Linked DNA regions of Homo sapiens: region 2 is linked to region 1. A link means that fine-mapping ties the variant in region 1 to the expression of a gene that starts in the linked region. Tissue or cell type: tibial artery. Region 1 holds a variant in brackets; the other region holds the start of a gene. All regions are shown on one strand. Distances are from middle to middle.

Region 1 (10,428 bases):
CCACTCCAGTCTCCTACCTGGCTCTTCTTGTCAGCCAGAAATACCTGAGCAACAAGATCTCTAACTACTCATCCCTGTGGGAAGCACCCAGCTCTGCCACCTTCCTCTGAGAACAGCCAGGCCCTGGTAGCATGCTGGTGCCCAGGGCTTGCCCAGAGGGGAGCTCTCTGTTTGGCTTGGGCACTGTTGGACCAGCTGGCAGGCACAGTATCAATACACACTTGATTCAGGGGCAGCCCTTTGGAGCCCACAAAGTGCTTTTGGGTTTGTCATTTTATTTGAACTGCAGTCCAGGTATACCTGGTTTGCACTCTTCCTTTTTTTTTTTGAGACGGAGTCTTGCTCTGTTGCCCAGGCTGGAGTGCAGTGGCACGATCTCGGCTCACTGCAACTTCTGCCTCCCGGGTTCAAGTGATTCTCCTGCCTCAGCCTCCCAAGCAGCTGAGGTTACAGGCGTGCACCACTATGCCCGGCTAATTTTTGTATTTTTAGTAGAGATGGGGTTCCACCATGTTGGTCAGGCTGGTCTTGAACTCCTGACCTCAAGTAATCAGCCCGCCTTGGCCTCCCAAAGTGCTGGGATTACAGGTGTGAGCCACTGCACCCAGCCACCTGGTTTGTACTCTTAAACTAGTTCTACAGATGAGGAGAAACCTGAGGCTCAGAGAGGTTAAATACTTACTCAAGGTCAAACAGTAAGAGCCAGTGAGAGATTCAAGCCAAGAACCCAATTTCTGTTGTTTTTTGGGTTTTGGTGTTTTTGAGACAGGGTCTTGCTTCATTTCCCAGGCTGAGGTACAGTGGTATGATCTGGGTTGACTGCAGCCTCAACCTTCTGGCTCAAGCTATCCTCCCATCTCAGTCTCCCATGTAGCTGGGACTACTGGTGTGTGCCACCGCATCTGGCTAGTTTTTGTTTGTAGAAATGGAGTCTCATTATGTTGCCCAGGCTGATCTCAAACTCCTGGGCTCAAGTGATCCTCTCACCTCAGCCTCCCTAAAGCGCTGGGGTTACAGGTATAAGCCACCACGCTCAGCCAGTTCTCTGGTTCTCAATTCAAAGCGAATATTGCTCTATAGGTATGATGCTTCCCAAGCAGCCCCTGCAGCACATGAAGCCCAGGAAAGGCCTGCCGAGATTCTCAGGTCTTTCTGGGGGTTCCAGAGAGGCAGCTAAGGGGAAGGGGTCTTTGCTGTCCTCATCACCAATCCTTGCTTAGAGGCTTTGAAGTGTACATTCCATCCACCACAGCCCAGTGATCAGGAAGGGCTCTAACTAGCCCCATTTCTGTCAGAAGCCAGGAAGACTCCTCTGCTGAAAATCCTTCTGCTTGGCCATTGAACAGTAGTTATTAGATACTAATCTCATTTGCTAATACCAATAAGGCCTCTAGAAAAGGCCACCCCTTACGTCTGGTCAGAATTTGCATTATGATGCCTCTGTTCATGCTTTAAGTATTAACCTTTGGCACACAGTTACTGAGCACCTACTGTGTGCCAGATACTCTTAGGCGCTAAGGCACTAGGCGCATGTCCCCCTTTAATAAAAGGAGGGATGTAGCAGTGTCTGCCACTGACCATGGCCTGGTGGGACAGACAGACAAACAGATTCCAAATTCCAAATCTGTAGAAGCACAGGGGAGGAAGGAATTGAACCTGGGTGGGCCTCAGGAGCTTGAGTCAGGCTGGGAAGGCTTCTCAGAGGGGCCTTGAAGGATAAAATGTAAGTTTCTTCAAAAATCTTTTCTGTAGCTCTTTTGATAGAAAGGGAAGAGCCATCTTAAGGGAAATGACAAGGGACAGGGTGGCAGGGGTGAGGGCACAGAAAGGGGTGACTGAGACACCTGAACACCTAGCCCCTGGTCAAATGTGCTTGATGCCAATCTTGGCCCTGTATCCTTGGTCCCTAAGTCCAAGGACCTAATCTTTGGGGTAGCACTGTCCAGTAGAATTTCTGGAATGATGCAAATGTTGTATTTCTGTGCTGTCCAACATGGTAGCCACATGTAGTTACTGAGCCCTTGACATGTGGATAGTACAGGTAAGGAACTGAATGTTTACTTTTATTTCATTCTAATTAATTTAAACTTAAATAGCCACCCTACCTGACAGTGCAGCTCTAGATACTTCTTATCCTGGATCACATTGGAATCACCTGAGATGTCTTTTAAAAGTTCTGACATCTGGTGCCTGAGCCTCACCCCTAAGATTCGATTTTGTTGATCTAGGGTGGGGCTCGGGGATCAGTATTTTTTTTAAACAATCCAGGTGATTCTCCCGGAAGCCAGTGTTGGGAACCACTAATCCAAAGCTGTCTACCACTCCCTCAGGGATGGGGAGGCCCCTCTTGTCATAGCTTTGCCCAGGGTGTATGTTTGGGCCTTCAACTCCTCTGGCCCTGCCTAACACCCCTCTCCCCATGGAAAGCCACACCCTCAGTCTCCTCTCCAGCTCCAGTAGGAAGGTCGAGCCCGAACGAGGGCCCTTACACGGACTCCTGGCTCTCCCCTGCTAACCACACTCACTTCCCAGCCTGGAAACAGAATTCATTCACCTCAGAGTCTGCAAGGACCTAGCCAGCAACCTCTGCCCTGGTCAGCAGGGCTCAGCAGTCAAGGAGCCTTATCCTTGCAGGCCGCCGGGGCCCTTGGACAGAGCCCAACCAGCCATTTTCCCAGGCTGGGCTAGGCTGGGCAGGAGCAGGGGCCAGTGACCAGGCCTGATGTTTGGCCACTTTCTGCCCAATACGAGCAGATATGCAGATGAATGTGTTTGGGACAGCAATAATACAGGAGGTTTTGGTACCAAGACTGAAACTTGGAGAGAACCTTCCTCCCCTGTGTTTTGTGGAAAAAGGTTCTCTGAGCTGGGGTTCATCCGGCAACTGCTGCCCACCCACCCTGATGTTTGCCACCCACACCCCAAAAGCAACTTTCCCACGACTCACATGGCAGCTTGTGCACTTCTTTTATTATTAAATATATAAGCAGCTTCCTATCTTTTAAATAGATATTTAAATGACTTTATATAAAATAATTCACCACTTCCAAGTATAAAAACAAAATCTCACAGTGCGTGAGCCAATGTCCTCTCTTGACTTCTCAGAGAACAGAAGGGGTTCCTGAGCAGGTAGCCTGGGGGGACACCAGAGGTGGCTCTGGGGCTCCTCCTGCTCTGATGCCACCAAGTGCTCAAAAAGAGCTTCTGCAGTGGGTTGGATTGCTTTTTTGACCTTTAAAATATTATATGTTTAAGGTAGGGGGATGAAGGGGGAATGCCTTTTTATTTTTCTTCCATTTAAAAATATGTGTTTTCTAGCATCAAATATAGAGGCTGTGACTAGAAGGCTAAGCCCCATATGCAAGTTCACTGCCCTTCCCTAAGCTGTCGGCATCAGGACAGGGAAGGTGGGGCCAGCCGACCCTCACTTTCCTGGGCAGGAAGGGAAAGTCACGGGGCCCAGCGGCCAGGTAGGGCAGGGTCTCTTAGCGGAGGACAAAGGGCGGCAGGAGAGGAGGCACACAGCAGCACAAAGGAACCCAGGGGCAACTGGCAGCCCTGTCGCTCGTTGCCTAGGCCTCAGAGCCACCACCACAGGCTGGCCACAAAGTGGAGGCCCTCCAGGCATTGGAAGCTGAGGCCTGGCTCTCCTGATTGCTCTCCCACCCTGGCTTGCCTGGTTAGAGGTGATGGTAGAGGGGGTGGGTGAGAGTTGGAGGTCATCACTGCTGACCAAGGTCAGGAGGAAAGAAGGGTGAGAAGTGGATGGGAGCTGGATACCATGCAGGTGGGGCTGAGATGCAGCCCAGTCCAGGGCTCCTGACAGGGATAACCTGTTCAGCCCCAGGTTCCTGTCGGCAGCAGGGAAAGGACACTGCGCTGGGGTTTGGGAGTGCAGACCCTCCCCCAACCTCAGGTGCATACCTATATTTCAAAGGCCCATCTTCAGTCAGAGCTCGCCCTGTAGCCTCTCTGTCTGTGCCCTCCCCTCCCTTGCTCTCTCCCACTAGTCCCTTCCCTCTTGGGAATGTCAAAGTGCAAGATGCAGAAACCTGGGCGAACAACACAGCCTAAAGACCGGCTCTGGCTGGCGGCCCAGGAGGTTCTCCCACCCCACTCCACTCCGGGGAGTCAAAGGCCAGGTCAGGAGAAGGTCAGGGCTGAGGGGCTCCCTCAGTCGACTGGTGAGGCCAGCTCAGTGCAGGAGGCTGGGGAGAGGCTGGAGAGTGGAGGACGGACGGATGCTGGCTCATGGATGGACGGGGGCAGGCTGTTCAGCAGGCAGGTACAGTGTTCACAGTGCAATGGCTTCCTTCATGAGGGGAGCCTCTGCTTGGCCTCCTGGAGAAGCTCTGGCAGGTGCTGGAAGGAGGAGGGGCAGAGGCCAGTGCTTGATCCCCCTCTTGGCATCACTGGCAGGTCAGGCAGGTCCTGAGGGCAGGGCTGGCCTCCCCTCTGCGCCTGGCAACCAGCACAGGGCACTTAGGTGAGCCGAGGGTGTAGACCCTTCAGGCTGTCAGTGCAGACCAGCAGGTCCAGAGGCCTCCTCTTCCCGTCTCTCAGGCTGCACACCTTTACGGGAAATCAGGCCGACGCTGTCCCGCCCCACGAACTTCAGGCTCCTCTCTCTGGAGACAGGTCCATGCCTGTCCAGGCTGGGATACCTTGGCACCAGGCAGGCCCTCTGGGTGCAGGGTTCTTTCACTCCTCAGCGTCCACCCTGCTTTCCCACAAACCACAGGCCGGTGGGTCCCTGGCCTGGGTTCCGGCATGGAAGGGAGTGAGAGGAGGGTGCAGCCCCTGAGGGAAGAGGGTCCTGAGCCGGGCTCACCAGCCTTCCTCAAGCACATGGGAGCCTCCAGGGCTCACAATAAATAGTGGCAGCATGGGGAGCATCCTCTGGCCTCTCTCATTCAGTCAAGGGTCTGCGGGTTGAGACAGAGGGGCCCCAGCCTGGCTGCTCTGGTCCAGTCCTGGCAGGCAGGAGCTCTGGTGGAGGGCAGACCACATTCCAGGAGGATGGCCAGGGAGGGGTGGTGGTGGACGCCCCATAATGTCTCCTCCCACGGAGAGACTGTTCTGTGCGTCCAGCTGTGGGAGAGAAGGAAAGGCTAGTCAGCAGAGTGGGAATGCGGGGAGGGTCGTTGAGGACATGGATTGGGAGGTGTGGCATTCCTGTGGGCTGCTGGCGGTGCTGCAGGCAGGACTTCCTTTCCTCCCTTCCCTGGCCTTTCCAGACACCACAGAGAGACCAGGCAGCTTTCTCTGGCACCAGCCCAGGCCTCTGGCCCAACTGGCCTCACCTCCTACCTCCTCCTGGGGAATCAGGGCCTCAGTGGAAGATAACGGGGCCCGGGAGAGGTCTGGGCAGGGCTGGGAAGAGGGGTTACTGCTCAAGCAGAGGGCTCTGACAAGGAGCGAAGCGGGCACTTGAATGTCTTTGGACCCCTCCTCAGGCGAGGTCATCTCATTGGCCTTGGTCCAGTGAACAAAGGGTGATTCCTGCTAACACTAGCAAAGAAGAATCTTTCATTTCATCAGAGGGGCATCACATATGATGTTCAAGACAGTAGGGCAGAGCTAGCTGAAGAGGAACAACTTGGGCCAGAGAGGAAAAGTCTAGAGGCAGTGCCAGGACAAGGAAATTCCCACACTGTCATTTGGCACGCGACCCCTAAGCAACCCAGCCCCTCCTGGATGGGCCGAGGGCCTTGCCTCCCGCATCATCCATGGGAGTCAGGGCCTTGTCCTCTCGCCTTCCACCCCCATCCTTGTCCTCTTGCCCAGCATCCTCAGGACG[C/T]TTTGTTCCCAGAGCAGAAATCCCCTGGACCCCATCCAACAGTTTGACTTTGGACCTTGTGTGGAGCCTCCCTCCCTAACATCCATAGGCCCTACTGGGTAAGGAGGGAAGATGGAACCACAGCCTCTGGCTCCCTGCCCATTCCCATGCTCTAGAGGGAAAGAAGGGGAACCATAAACTGGACATGAGCCATGCTGGGTACAGCCAGGCCACAGGCCCAGCTAGGGCCCAGGAGGGGAGAAGGACCCAGTGAGCGAGTTCCAGCCTGCTGCCCCATCTTCTAGCTGCTTAGGGCTGAGGTGCTGGTGTCTGCATTTTCTGTGGCTCTGAGTCCCTATCTCAGTCTCTGCCTCTATGTTTCTCTCTCTCACTTCTCAAATCACAGCAGCAGTCACTCTAGGGGCTGGCACTCAATCTCTCCAAGGCCACTGGTGCCTGGCCTGGAGACCACCTTAGGGCTGGACCTGCCGGGCCAAGTGGGATCTGGATGTAGCCCCTGCCCTGGATTCCCTCTCCAAGTGAAATCTTGAGGGGGAAGAGGAAAGCTTGGGACGGGCCTGAGAATAAGCAAGTGGGGAAAGGAGGGTGGGCGTGTAGAGGGGTGGGACAGAGGGCCAAGACCACGGCGAGGGGTTTGGGGACAGACGACCCGTGGGAAGGGTGTTGTGGCACTGAGCCACCAGCAACCAGTTCTGAGGAGGCCTGGGTCATTTCACAGTCTTGCCAGTGCCCCAGCTGACCCACTCACCCATCTTAGCCCACCCCACTGACAAGGTAGACCCCAGGATTCCAGATATGTTGTTACTGCTGGTTCTTGTCTAAATAGGTTCCCCTGGTTTTGAGCATTTGCCAAATTCCCTATCTCTCTAGAAGGGGCCCAGACCTGTCACTCCACACATGGGAGAGCCCTGCGGCACTGGCTTGCACTTGGTAAAGGATGTGACTGGAAACTTGACTGGGTCACCCCAGCTAGTCAGCCAACCAGCCAATTAGTCAGGCAATCAGCTAGTCAGTTGCTCAATGGGCTCCCCAAGCAACAGCTGGTCAGTTAGGCAGTTACCAAGATAGTTGGTTGGTTAGTCATTCACCCAGCCAGCTGGTCAGCCAGTCAGTCAGAGTCAGTCAGTTAGCTGGTTAACTGGTCAGCTAGAGGCTGGTCAGTTAGAGACAGCTGGCCAGGGTCAGTCCGTGAGTCAGCCCTGAAGCCAGTCAGTCAACATTTATTGCATGTTTGGCAAATGTGGAGAGGCCCTCTCTTAGTAGAACCCAGGATGGAAAAAGAAACACAAAAAAAAGTGGAAGACAGTCCCTGCCCTCAAGGGGCTTACAATCTTAGGGATGTGGAATGTACAATACATATAAAATAAGATTTTAAAAAATATGAAAACAACATCCAAATAAGTGCAAATTGATATACTATTAGCCAAATACAAAAGAGCAGGAGGAGCATGACTGAAAAGAGCAGTCAGAAGGTTGTGGAGAAGCCAGGAAGGCTTCCTGATGGGCTGGCTGTGGGCTTGGGTGGGAGGGGGAAGAGGTGGGCCAGCTGGGGTTGGCGGGGGGCAGGGGTGAGGAACAATAGGGTCACAGCTACATCAACAACATGGGCAAAGACAACAGCAGGCACTCATCAATGTGCAGGAGGCACAACTGGGAGGGCTACGGAGATGACAGAATTAGGATTTCACACAACTTCAGTAGGTTCAGGTGATGGGCAGAAACCAACAAGGTGGCTTTAACAAAGGTGAACATAAACTGCACTTTGGTTAAAAAAGTTAAGTTGTCCAAGTACAGGGTAGAGATGGTCTGGCTTGACAGAAGTTTATGGGAAATGGAACTAGGGGTTTTAATAGACCACAGGCTCAACATATGACAACAGTATGATGCAGTTGTTAAGAAAAAAACTAATGCAATCTTAATCTGCACAAATAGAAGAATACTGTCCATATCAAGGAAGGTAACAGTCCCACTGTACTCTCTCTGAGCTGGTCAGACAACATCTGGAGTACTGTGTCCGGGGCTGGGCGTCACATTTTCAGAGGGACATTGACAAACGAGTGTGTCCAGGATGGTGAGGGGTCTGAAAACCATATCATATAAGGAACGTTTGAGGGACTTGGCCATACTTAGCTTAGAGAATTCTCAAAGGGGACATGGATACCTGACTTGAAATATCTGAGGGTTTTCATGAGAACAGGAGGGAGGAGCAGTATGGAGGGGGCAGGGAAGCCAGTTTTGCCTCGCATGAGGAAGACGTTTCTCCCAGTCTGACTGGAAGATGGCATGGGCTGTGGCTAGGCAGGGAGCTGGGCTGGATCTGGGAGTGTGTGACAGCCAGCTGGCTGGCTCCCTGTTGGGGACATGGAGAGGGGCAGTCCCTTTGGGGTGGGAACCAGGGCCAAATGACCCCTGAGAGCCCTTCCAAGACTCAGGTTCTATGTCAACATGATCCTAAAAGCAAGGAAGCAGAACTGACCTCAGCTGGGGAGGAGGGTTAACTGGTGCGGGGGTGGCGATCTGGCAAGCAGCTGCTGTCGAAGGGGCTTGGCAGCCAAGCCAAGAATATAGGGCTTGCAGTGGCTGCCACACAGAGCTACTGAAGATTCTCCAGGAGGGTAAAGACCTTATAAAGGCCACATTTGAAAAAGGGGGGTTTAGTTGCTCTGAGGTCACAGGTGGCAGCAACACTAGAAGCCCAATGCAGAGGTAATAGTCCCTGGCCTCAGCGGGGGTGGATGGAATGGAGGGGCAGGGGGATAGCTGAGGACCTGGAAAGGAGAGGGTGGCTGGACCTGGCTGGCGATGTATGGAAAGGGAACTGGAGAGAGGCATGGGAGTCAGTGTGGGGGCCTCAGGGGAATTGGTGTCACCAACAGGTGAACGTGACTGGAAAAGGGTATAGGTAAGTTTTAGGAGTGGAGATCAAAGTCAGAATCTTACCTTAGAATTCCCTCTACACTGGCAGTTCCACCTGTCTGTCATCCTGAGTCAGGGGGCTGCAGGCAGAGCACAGGGCTGGTATTAGACATCAGCAGGAGCAGGGGAATAAGGGGACTCCGTAAGTTTACCCCTAAGCCCCAGACATGCTCTAGGCCCTCTCAGATTGAAAAGACCCAGAACTGTCTAACTCTACGGAGAAATCAGGAAAAAGCCCAGATATCTGGGAAAGGACAGAGGCCCTTCTTCTCTCCCCCATCCTGTTCTGCAGCTCCATTTCCTCAGAGCAAGCAGGAGAGCCCCACCACCACGAAGAGGGGAAACAGATCCCAAGCCAGGCCCCCAGTGCCTCCCAGAGCCCCACCTCAAGCTCTCACCTGCCCTCTGGTTGCTCCAAGGGAGAATCCGCTCTCTGAGGCTCTTGATGGCTCTGAGGACAGGAAAGAGCATCTCACTGAGGAGCTGGGGGAGTGTGGGGGGGCGGTGGCCCATCCCCAGTAAGGGCTGCCCCAGGTATTTATGAGAGAGTTGCAAGAGTCCTCCCAACTTCCCAAAAGTGGGGATCAGCCAGAGGCCCAAGGGAGATTTGTGAGGTCTCTCTGCTGATGGTGTCCCCTCTCCTCTCCCCACACCCTTGCAGGCTGTTCCCTATGGGTCCTCCTGCCCCAGGCTCTGCAGAGCTTCCAGTGTACGCCTGCCCTGACACGCTCACACAGCATTGCTCTCCTCCTCCAGCTCCCTGCCCGTCTGGATATCATCCTGCTGTCAGCCCATGAATATTCTCTCCCGCTCCCTTCTGCTCCAGTCCCTTCCCATTGACCTTATAGCTTGAACCTTCCCAATTCTCGAAGTAATCCTCCATTTCCACCTCTCATCCTCTGTGCTGAGCCAGCCCCTATCTCTCTGTGTCTGAAGAACTCAGGCCGCACCCAAGCTGTCCCCCCACCTGCACCCCCGCCAGGCTCTGCCCCTGCCCTAAGGGACGTGCTCTTCTTCCTCATGGGGATCTACTCACCCGCCGCCTCCACCTGTAGAACAAGAGGCCTCCGACGGCCAGCAAGACCAGGATGACACTGGGCACCAGCAGGTGGAAGACAGACTCCTGGAGCTGCGGGCTGAAGGATCCCTCGGACTGCCTCTCATGGCCTGTGTCAGTCAAAGGAACGGAGTTAAAACGGGGCAGGGGCCTGGCTGCCCCTTCACTTGCTGGTCCTCCTTCTGGCTCTGCGGGGCTCCTCCGATCCCTGGTGCTCCTCCTGCCCTCCAGCTCCCCAAGGGGCAGCACGCTGCCCGAGGAGTGGCTTCTGGAAAGCTGTGGCTGAGCAGAGAGGGTGGAGGGGTTGCTGAGGCCCTGGGGGCGCAGTGATGAGATCCTGGGAGAGCCTGGCTCCGGGGGGTCTCTGAGCAGGGCAGATGGATGGTCTGTCTTCTGGGGGGTGTGATTCCAGTCCTGGCCAGTGGGCCTCACGGGGCCCACCCTGGGCAAGGCGGTACCAGTTACATCTGCCGGCTGTTGGCCCTTTGCTGATGCAGGGAGTGGAGAAGATGCTGAGAGGAAGTTGCTGGGTCTGGCGGGCTCTGTCTGCATGCTGCCCCCTCCTGGCCTGGAGGGGGAAAGCTCTGTCCCTTGGGGTACGGGAATCTCACTGGCCTCTCCAGAGGCTTCTTCTGGGACCCAATTAGTGCCCATT
Region 2 (10,875 bases), 56 kb before region 1:
CAGGGTAACTTTCAGAGCTACGGAGGCACTCCTTGGACTGCATGCTAGGATAACAGGTATAAACCAGAATTGCGCCAGGCAAACCAGGATATATGGTCACTCTAGGTACAAAAAAACCCCACTAATTACTATTTACTAAATGCTAACCCTCTCAACCATGTATATAGATAGCACTATCATTGTTCCCCATTTTACAGATGAGAAAAGGACGTCACTTGTTGAATGTCCCACAACTATTAGATGGTAGAGACTAAAGGTAAAACTGACTCCAAAAATCAGTGCTTACCTTATGTTGTACTACTACTCACAGTTTTAGGAACAGAAACGGGAAGTTAAAGGCGTCTTATGTAACAGCCAAGCAACAGTGGGACAAAAGAACTACTTGAGTGAGTCAAAGGAAAATATGGAATCAGAAAAGGAAAGGCAACTGCAATTCTGTGTGAATTTTTATTAACTGCTTACTACACAATAGGCACTGATAGTATTGACAATAATCAAAAGGAAAATTTGTGGTAAGAATTTGTCTTCAACTGGGGATTCTCAGATTTCAGGCTAGAAAAAATTCTGGTCTATGCACGTAGGTTGCCCTTCACATGACAGGAATGCTTCTGACGCACCTCATTAGCATGTGTTCTGAATTACTATTCAGTTCTAAATTATAATAAAATGTATCCAGTATAATCAGGGTTGACATTCTTTATAAAAATGCAATACTCACATTCCCAAACTTGAGAAACAGGTACGTATAAATGATTCTCCTTTATTCGCCAGTTCCTTTAAAACAACCCCAAGAGGGCATTAAAGTGCTTATTTACAGATCATTAACTACTCGGAGTGGCAGAGTACACTTGCTAGGAGTCACAGGCAACTAAAGACCTGCATGATTCCATGTATCAAAATATCCTTTATAGACAACTTTCCAAGAATACTATATTGGGGTGGGCGTGGTGGCTCTTGCCTGTAATCCCAGCACTTCGGGAGGCTGAGGTGGGAAGATCGCTTGAGCCCAGGAGTTCAAGACAAGCCTGGGCAACACAGGGATTTCCCCATCTCTATAAAAAATAAAAATAAATTTTAAAAAAGAATATTATATTGGGTAAAACACTCTGGATCCAAATGACACACTCCTGATAAAAGAAAAGGTATACATTTGTAACCTTGGCAGCAAAAGATCTAGACAACTACTGATCTAGAAATCTTCTAACAGATTTCTGTTACAAGCTAAATGTCTAAAGAAACTTGGAACAAAGTAATTTGGAAACTAGAGTGTAACTAACTAAACCAAACAAGAAAAAGAGATGTAATCAATACCTGCGGAGAAATCTTAAAAAGAGGATCTTCTTACACCCCAACTCCTGTTTTAAAGACTGCTACTACAACAGCAGCCACTCTAAGGAGAATCAAGAGATACTAATGATGTGAAGATAGGAAATGCCAACCTATGAAATCTCCTTTCAGTGATTCTGACAAGTCCTGGCGTAAATTCTATACAACTGCACCAAAAATTAACCGTAAGATAACTCTGATGACAAAAGGAGAAACCTGGATTTTACCTATCGGGTTAACACCCAAGCTGTACCCATTGGGGCTCTACTTGGTGTGCTTCCTAAGTCTCAGCTGACCCTTTTGATGAATTAGTGGCACATAGCTTCATTCAAATAAAGAATATCCTATAAACAAAAGTAGTTTCTTCTGTGCTCTTCTCCTTCCCCACATTTTGCTGATGGGTCTGACTCCACAGATCCTAGGTCAAAATGTTTAATGGATCACTCTGGAGAGTGCCTTTAATGTTCAGAAGTTCAGAGAACAGCAAATGTTCTGAAAGGCCTTCCGGAGAAACATGCTTATTGTAAGAGCTCTCCAACAAGTTGGAGATTTGGGTTTACACTATGAAAAAAGAATCAACTTGACACAGTGTCAATTTCCAAAGGTCCAAGGACAGTTACCACTCCTGTTACACAAAGTAGCAGCAAAAGAGGGATAAATAACCAGTGGTTATGGGGAACTAGATTACTTACTTGGTTTGACCGATAACTGCCAACATTAAACAAGGATCTTCTTCAGTTGTGGTACACTTAACTCTTAAAACTCAAGGATTCCTTTTCTTACCTCAAATTTTCCTAGCCATACCATCTGAAATCACCAGTGACAGTCGTGAACAAGCCTTACAATGTGAATTACACTACAGCTATTAAGACATTCCCGTGAAAAATTATTTTAGAACTCTGTGTCAGGAAAAGTCGTCCCCTTGAGGAATTGACATGTATTATTTCCCATGCCTGCTAAGGAGACTGTAACTATGATTCTTTTCATCCTCTGGCTGCTAAAAGTTTCAAGTTGCATGTGATCAACCTCATCAACTATCTTAGCCCTCGAGGTTAACAATATTTTTTTCATTCTTTCTATAGTTTTTACTTCCTTTTATATCACATATATGTTCTGTGTTATAAGCCACTTCAAATGCCCATTGAAGAAAGAATATAAATATACGAATAGACTTTTAAAAAATTACACTGCTATCTTAACTCCCCAACATGCCCCTATCTCCACCTGTTCCAAAAAAAATAGGCACTTATTTGGCAGATGAGGAGATGCAGGTACAAAAGCTAATTAATTTGCTCAAGGTCATATCCCTTTAGTTGACTTCTCGACACCCAGACATCTCAAATCTTCAATCAAACCAACAAGTCCTATTTTGTTCATAGCAGTGTGATAGACCTTGGCATACAAAACTGAGTAAGTCATGATTATAGCTGAAGAATCTAGATATTTATGCTTTTAATTGATGGACATCCACTCTATCTCAAACAAAGCAAACAAAATGAATAAAAGCTGACTCTGTCTCAAACAAAGCAAACAAAATGAATAAAAGCTGACCAGAAAGTGACACTGGGATCTGATCTAACTGAGGACCATCAAGGTCACCCTGAAGTAACCTATATCCTCTGGCATCAAGAACATCCTCAATTCCTGAGGGGCCTCAGGGCTTCAGAATAATCCAAGGATTACTGGTCTAGAGCCAGGGTAGAATTCTCATAGGTGAAGGACTGCACCATTTGAAGAGGTCTTTTTCTCACACCATTAAGTACCATGCCAAGTTACTTTTTTCCCTCTTACTTTTCCCATGCTTTCACGTTATCAACACATGGCAGAGGTACAAAAGTGACTTAAGTCTTAATGTTCAATTCAGCAGTTCTGAAAAACAGATTGCCTAGGACTTGCTATGTGACCTTGACTAGTCCTCAACTGATCCATTAACTTAATAAATGTCTTTTATCATCACTAGGGAAAGGGTAATTAGTCATCATGAAACACTTTATTACAAAGTACTACGTAAATGCTAAAGAATAAAACTTAGAAGAGAAAGATTAATAAGAAACACGGTGGGGCACATTTACTGGTAAATGGAAACTTAAAACAGGGTCTTCCCACATTCCTGGCAGAGCCTGCTTCTTTTAGCTAATGCAATATAAGTCTAAAATCATCAGCACTTGGCCTGACAATAATACACATTAGTAATATTCCTCCTGGGAAGAAGAGAGGAAAAGGGATAGTTATTCATGGTAGGTGGCCACATGGACATCTCAGTTACTAGTTAGCCAGGTGAGCAATTAATATTTGAGTACCTACTGTATGCTGGGTACAAAGCTAGGCACACTGGATACAAAGGTGAACAAGAATCCCTGCCTTAATGAGTTTTTACAATCTACGATATAGACTTTGTCTTATCAACAGTGGTACTTTCAAGAATACAGATTTACTAACATAAAGGCAAGTAACAGCAAAGAAGACAGAGTCTGGGAAATTCAGGTATTAGGGCTTTCCCATTCTTTCCTCTAACTCATCTAAGGTCCCACCCTCAATCATTCTGCTTATAAGGACTGTGACTGTTTCTCCAAAGAATAGTGCAGATTGCAAAGGGTCATTGTCCCAACAAAGCAGTCAACTGAACTCTCAGCACTAAAGTTAATCAGATGCCTCAGAGTCAAGGAATCTTCCACAATCTTTTAAAGGAATTAAATTCTTAATTTTGTGAGAAAACAGCGAAAGCACACAATGGCGACTCGTCTTTTTTGATCTTGCATTTGATTTCTGGAGTGGCAGGTTAATTCACTTAAAAAAAAAAAAAAGAGCCATCTCTCCCACTTAAGACAGCTTAACTAGTTGAAGCCTCAAGGACTTAACTATTCCTGCAGCCCTTGCTTTGTTCAGCCCTGCATCCCATTAAACACTGGATGCAGGCAGAGACAGCTTTGTAAGACTCTGTCTTTATAAAGAAGGGAGACATTTATCTGGGTTCTCACTGGCTTCAGGAAGGTCACCTCTTTGTAAAGGTTCTCTGGTCTACTGCTAACTGGGTGCCAGGTGTATGGAAAATCAAGATGTGGTTGGCAGTAAATGATGAGAAAGCAATAAGGATCCCAATTCCACCACTCGGAGAGCTAGTCAGACTAAAATCTCCAAAGGTTGCCATTTATGAGAGAATTCGAAGGGTGTCCTTTGAGTCAACCTACAGCACAATAGATCAAACTTGTTCTGCCTCAAAAGTACAGTCAAGAGTGAGCAATCTTCCCTTACCACCCACTACTCCAACCCACCCAAGCTCCTTTCTCCAGGGATGCCTAAGTGATCTATTCACATGACTCTAGGATCCACCTGTATCCATGACAGTGTCTGCTGTCACCAACCTCCAAATGTCAATTTCTTACATATTTCGAAGTAATTGGAATGCTGTAGAAAGTGAAAATCATAGATTTTCAGTTTCATGTTACCCTCATCGCTTTCACCTGTATATCAGAGCTAGCTTCACGCATTCTTTTCTCTTGCCTCCCAGCTATCACGCAGTTGTTGGATAAAGCGGCCACTGCTCCCAAAGATTTGATGGAAGTTCTGCCAGATTTACCCACTCACCTGAAGGGAGATTTTCTGTACACCCCATGCCCCCGGACTGGTCACAAGGGTCAGCTGAGTTGGTTCACCCCCTCCCACTCTCGTCTTCGAGGCCCTTCATCCAGGAAAAGTCAGTCGCAAATTTAAGGCCTGGCCCTGTCGGGTTTCAAAACGATCCCGGAGGACTTGGGCCGAGGGACAAAGGAAAGCGAGGTCAGAGGCGGCCTTTCAGCCCGGGAGAGGCCTGGGGCCGCACAGCCGCCACCCCCTACATCACCTCCGCCGTCCCCAGTCACCCCCAGAAGTCCCAAACTAGCCAGAGCCCGGGCTTGCTCGCGTCCCTTCCGCGAGGCCGGAGCCCGAGCCCCCGCCGCCACCCAGAGCCCCCGCACCTTCTTGGGCGCCTTGGTGACGGTGGCCATGAAGGAGTACTTCTCGGCGTCCTCGATCTCCTTGGCCTGCTTCAGCTCCTCCCCGACCCCGGGCAGCGGCATCGCGTCAGGCATCGACATTCCCCGGCCGGCCCGGCCAGCGGCTGACCCGCCGCCCCCGCCTCTTTCCCCCTCTGGCGCCCGCCCGCCTGCCCGCGCGGCGCCCTCCGACACGCGATCGCCCACCCTCCTGCCGGCCCCTGCGTCGAGCTGCGTCGGCTTCTGAGGTGCTGTGGCCCACGCCTTGTCTGTTCGGCAGCCCAAGGCAGCCGGACAGCGACGGCGGCCACAAGAGAACCAGAACAGCAGCTCCGAGCTCCGACCTGCCCGCGCCGCCACCTCCGCTGTACGCAAACACGCACGCAAAGCGAGGGTAGAGGGCGGTGACGCCACGTCAAGTACTGGCAGCTCCCGGGAGGGGGAAGAGGCGGGGAGAAAGGGCACTCTGTCGTGACGTCACCACGCTGGGCTGGGCCACAGAAGCCGTTCCTCTCCCGCTCGAGAGCGAAGTTCCCAGGGTGAGCAGGACCCTTTGTGCCACCAGGTGGCACCATCAGCCCTGGGAGCAGCGCGAGGTTCATGCAACGATGCTGCGGAACGGAGGGTCTTTGGGCTGCGGGGTTCCTGGCAAGGCCTCAGAGGCGCATGAAAGGGGTGTTTGGGAGCAAAGACCAGAGCCCCACACGACACATCCTACAGCGATTCCTAGGAAATGTCCGGGGCTCGAGACAGCCCACTCACTCACTGGCCCAGCCCCAGGCCCTTTGGATTAAAGCTCCTTCCCAAGGGGCCGTGCCTGTCTTTTTGACTTCATAGGGGGCAGAACTGACTCAGAGTAGTCTGGTTTCTGCACAACGCTTTGTGACTTCCTCCACCACCATCTCCGACTGGGCCTTGCCTGTTTACAAAACCCTCATTGGGATAGGGCTGATGGGTATGAGGGTGGAGACCAGGAGAGCTGATGGAGAAGTCCCCAGCCAGAATGGCCTTCCGGTCCTTGCTCCACCAAAGCATTAGACCCTTCCAGCTCTCAGTGGGCATCCAGGACATTCATGGACTGCTCACACCCTTTTACTGGGCCTACTATGTGCAGTGCCTGTGCTGAGGCCCTGCTGGCAAAAGGACATGTGACGCATTTTATGTTTTGCAAGGCTTAGTTCAGCTGGAGAGGCAAAACCTGCTTGTATCCTAATGTCAGCTGAGGTAGCTTGTCCTTTGAGATTCAAATGACATTGGCTCCAATTACCATGTCCTGTGGAAAGTCCATTACTGGGAGGACTTGGATTTTCATGGTCACCTCTGGCTCTAGTTTTTTTGCCTTGTCTGGCATTTTATTCACTATTCTGGTCTTGTGACTGTTTCTGTAGCTCCTGGGGTCAATTCAGCCGCTTCTCCTTTCAACCCCCACCCCATGCTAAACAACTACAAAATAAGGCTGTAACATGTAGTAAAACTTTTAATAAAGGTTTGTGGGTCACAGGGGAGAGATTACATCACACAGCAAACAATTTAAGAACACATTTCTGAAATGTTCTGAAAAGTTATTTTGGCTGTCTTACCACCCGGGGATTTCTCAATGGCCACAAGATCCCACCACGCTCCCTAGCCCATTGCCATCTAATCTAGCTTCCTCCTGTTCCTCCCTTCCCATCTCTGCACCTCATCCTTCCTTCCTTGATAGACTCTGGGAAGCCAGATTCTCCTCTGCTGTGCTGAGCAATTCCAGTCTTCCCAGTGCCCTTTCCCTAAATTCCTCCCCAGGACCACCTTTTTTTTTTTTTTGAGATGACGTCTCGCTCTGTTGCCCAAGCTGGAGTGCTCTCAGCTCACTGCAACCTCCGCCTGCCGGGTTCAAGTGATTCTCCTGCCTCAGCCTCCTGAGTGAGTAGCTGGGACTATAGGCGTGCGCCACCGTGCCCGGCTAATTTTTGTATTTTTAGTAGAGACGGGGTTTCACCATCTTGGCCAGGCTGGTCTCGGATCCTGACCTCGTGATCCACCTGCCTCGGCCTCCCAAAGTGCTGGGATTACAGGCGTGAGCCACCGCGCCTGGCCAGGACCACCTTTTAACATCCAGAAACCTCCCAGGTTTTTAACAGGGCATACCCTTTCAAGAAGGAAGTTTTGGTTTGAAATGGCATTTTCCCCACTGATTTGTGTTCAGGGCTGGGGAGAGTGTGAAATATTCACCTCTAGGGCCCTAAAAGTCTTAGTCAGGGAATCCTGTGTTCCAGCCACCTAGCCTCATGAGACTGTCTGTTTGAAAAGGGCTGTAGAAGTGCCTGGAAGAATGCACCCTTTGCACATCTGCAGACCTTGGTCTTGAACTGTTTGTATTCTTTCATCTGCTCACTTTTTTGAGCACTCACACTTCCCTGTCAGGGGCATCACTGTAGCAGAACGGGAACAGAGATGGAGACCAGAATACCAGGTTCATCCATGAGGGTGCCAGACTGACATCTTTCAGCTAGGGGTCAGGAACCACACCTGGTGCACTAAGGACTCTCTGAACATAAGGCTCACAGTGGCTTTCATCCTTGTGGGTTTGCCCAAACTGTTGGCAGAGCCCAGGGATCAGAGATGCCTGCCCAAAGACTCGAGGCAGAACCCATTGGAACCAGGGATGAAATCTCAAGTCCCTATAGTAGAAAAATGTGTGACTTAAGAAGATCTTTTTTTTTTTTTTTTTTTTTTTTTTAAAGAGAAGCATCAGTGTATCTGTCTTTTGGATTTGATTTTTAGAACTCACTTTGTCTAAACATGTTGTCTCTCAGTCCCCCAGTTCTGCTGTGCATTTAAGCATCCAGACTGTGAGCTTCCTGGAGATTGAAGTTCAGTCTTTACTCCTCCTGGACCAGGTCTGCCCTAGCACCAGGCTCACAGTGTTGTCTGCTATTGCTGCTGCTACAGAGGATGACAGACAGGGCCAGGCCTAGAGCATGCAGTACCTTAGCAGTCTGGGCTAAGAAGGAGATCAGCAGGTCAGACTCCACTCACCTGAGTGGCTGGCCTGAGGGGAGGTTGATGAGCTGATGTAGGAGAGTTCGGGGACTCAGACTGGAAAGGGGAAGGGCAGCACCCCCTACCCTGGTGGAAAGCATTAGGCCTATGTGGTTCAAGTGAGGCCAGGGGCCCGGGACATTCTTGGAAACCAGCCACTGCAGGGGGCATGGGTGGCTGCCATCCCTTCCATCACGTGTGTGCTGGAGAGCAAAGAGCTCACCCAGCCAGGGAGTGTGACAACATAACATCCGTGAGAATCATTGCATCCTGTCTCCCACCCCCAAAACCCATCCTAAGATAGCCTCACATGGCACAGCTAAGGCGATTGCTTCTCATGAATGCCAAGAGATGACTTGTCTTCAGCCTACCCACCCACCTGACTCAGCACCTCTACTGGCAAGCTCACTGCCCTGAACAGCGCATCCACACACAGGTGAGAGACCCCCCACGGGGCAATTGGAGAAGAACAGGGACCCAAAGACAGATGCACCTGCTGTGTGTGGTGGTGGGAAGTCTCCAAGGGCCTGGAGCGAAGACCCTTGCTAGAAAGGAGTGGCCTAAGGGCAGTGGTGAATTGGGAGATGCTGTCACCAGAAATGTAGTGGCATTGGGCTACCACACGTGGGCTTGGTCTTGTTAATCAGATTCACTGTTTGTCCACCCCCAAATTGATGTTCTACATTCAGTCATTTGTTCTTTTATTTATAAAATATATATTGAGTGCCGAAGAAGTGCCAGCAGCAGGGCTAGATGTCAGTCGGGACTACAGAGATAAATAAGCTGAGGTGCTGATCTCTACGTGGGGACAGGTGATGGGGGTGGGGTGCAGTGGAGGGCAAAGGGATGACACAGAGGGAGATGCTGCCAGAGCTGAGTCTTGACAGATAAGCAGCTGGGCAAGGGAGGGAAGATTCTCCAGGCTGAAGAAACAGCCTGAGAATAGGCATGGTGATGGAAACAGCTTGGCATATTACGGGAACTGTAAATATCCCCATGTGGGTGGGGCACAGGGTGCAAAGCAGGGTGAAGTGAGCGCTGAAGCCAGGGCCAGATCCTGCAGGGCGTGTTAAGCCCTGGGTGGGTGGTGGTGATGTCTGCCATGCTGGGGAGCACAGGAGGAGAAGCAAGTGTGGCTAGAGGGGTGGAGGGGGGCTGCTGAGAGGAGTCAGCTTGGGACATGTTGAGTTTGATATGTCTGTGGAGGGCACTGTCCCTGAGTCTCAGGGGAGCCCAGGTTGGCACCTTTTGGAACTGCCCGCTCCCTGCCAGTCAGGCTCCCCACCAGGGGGAGGCTGTGCTCCTCCTGAAGGCCTTTCACCTCCTGTCGGCCAGGTGTTATGTTAGCCCTCTGGAATGAAAGTGCAGAAAAACTGCAGAGATCTTGGGTGACAATGGAAGTTCGGAAGAAGGTGAAGAGGGCAGTGGCTCTGTCTCTAGCTCTCCAGCATGGGCAAACCCTCCAGCTCCAGGCTTCTTTCTGTCCCAGAACTGCTACCTTGCACAGCTCTAGGAGGCACCACTGACATTGTAATTATTGTGAAAGGTGCCCTGGAGCACCACTTCAGATTGGTCACCTACCTCGCTGGCCCTTAGGGACCCCCAGAGGGTGGGCTCCCGGTTGCACCTCTGTGGCTGTGGGTGCTGGTCCTCAGGCTTCCTGGCTCCTACTTCCCACCGAGCTCCCTCCCTCCCTACCCTCAGCCTTTTCTCCTTCCCCTTCTCCAGTTCCAGTGGGAAAACATTCCTCCTTCTCTGTCTCCCCCTCTGCTTATTATTGTCATATTTATTAGGATCACTTACTCTTTATTATCATTTTGAACATTATAGGAAAGAAAAATCCATGAAGATTTTTTAAAAATTTCTTTTCATCTTGTTAAGTTCACTCCTAGTTCTTAGCAATTTGCAGAAACTCATTTTTACATACCTGTGATTGGTAGGTTCATGTCCTTTTGTATTCTGCTTTGATCAAATTACAATATTTCAAAAACACATGACCCGAACGGAGAGCATTGACATACTTGTTATTATTGTCCATGTTTTCCAAGCTTTCTGTCATATTGCTTTATGAGTTTGCTTAACTGTTTTCCTATTGTTCGGTATTTGAATTGTTTCCAACTAGTGCAATATAATGGAATGGAGGGAGGTGGTTTCGGAGTGGGTGTGGGGATGGCTTTCAAGCAAAACAGGCGAAGATGGGTCACAGCACCAGCTCCTGCCAGAGAAAGGGAGCAAAAATGTAAGTAGTGGGGGCAGTTATAATGACTGTAAACAAGGACCAGGATAAGGAGGCACCTTTTGGCCCTAGAGGATCTGAGGTCCTGTGTCTGGAACTCGTGATAGCTGACTCATGGCGAGGCTGCATGGTGTGAGGAAGCAGGAAAACTGGGCAGAGATGTGGGCTCAAATCTTCACTCTGCTACTAACTTGGCCACTGGCATCCTGGACCTTTTTTGACCTCCTCTTCCTCATGCAAGACAGGTTGATAGCTCTCCATCTGGGGCTTGTAATGACCTAATCCAGTAAGATCATAAATATGCAAAAGCTTTGAACA

Direction of the effects. Positions count from the first base shown, and alleles are read on the strand shown. Sizes are in standard deviations (SD) of each study's normalised expression.
In carriers of allele C in region 1, the expression in tibial artery of the gene that starts at base 5,690 in region 2 tends to be lower than with T alone (small effect, 0.22 SD a copy in GTEx).

The links. PIP is the estimated chance that this variant, and not a neighbour inherited with it, causes the effect.
Region 2: AHCYL1 starts here. The variant in region 1 is fine-mapped to the expression of AHCYL1 in tibial artery (GTEx, PIP 0.98).

What each region holds. Positions count from the first base shown.
Region 1 is chr1:109,923,515-109,933,942 of GRCh38, reverse strand. It overlaps CSF1 (colony stimulating factor 1), which reads right to left. Exons shown (of 9, transcript NM_000757.6): 6 at 9,753-10,428; 7 at 9,115-9,167; 8 at 8,741-8,796; 9 at 2,951-5,091. The coding sequence ends at 8,754. Among named protein-coding and RNA genes, the nearest start is that of CSF1, 18 kb to the right of the region's middle. RefSeq lists a silencer at 2,581-2,795 and an enhancer at 1,919-2,867. The variant C/T (reference allele first, on the strand shown) is at 5,801.
Region 2 is chr1:109,979,580-109,990,454 of GRCh38, reverse strand. AHCYL1 (adenosylhomocysteinase like 1) reads right to left here and starts at 5,690. Exons shown (of 17, transcript NM_006621.7): 1 at 5,283-5,690. The coding sequence starts at 5,402. RefSeq lists silencers at 5,145-5,214, 5,395-5,464.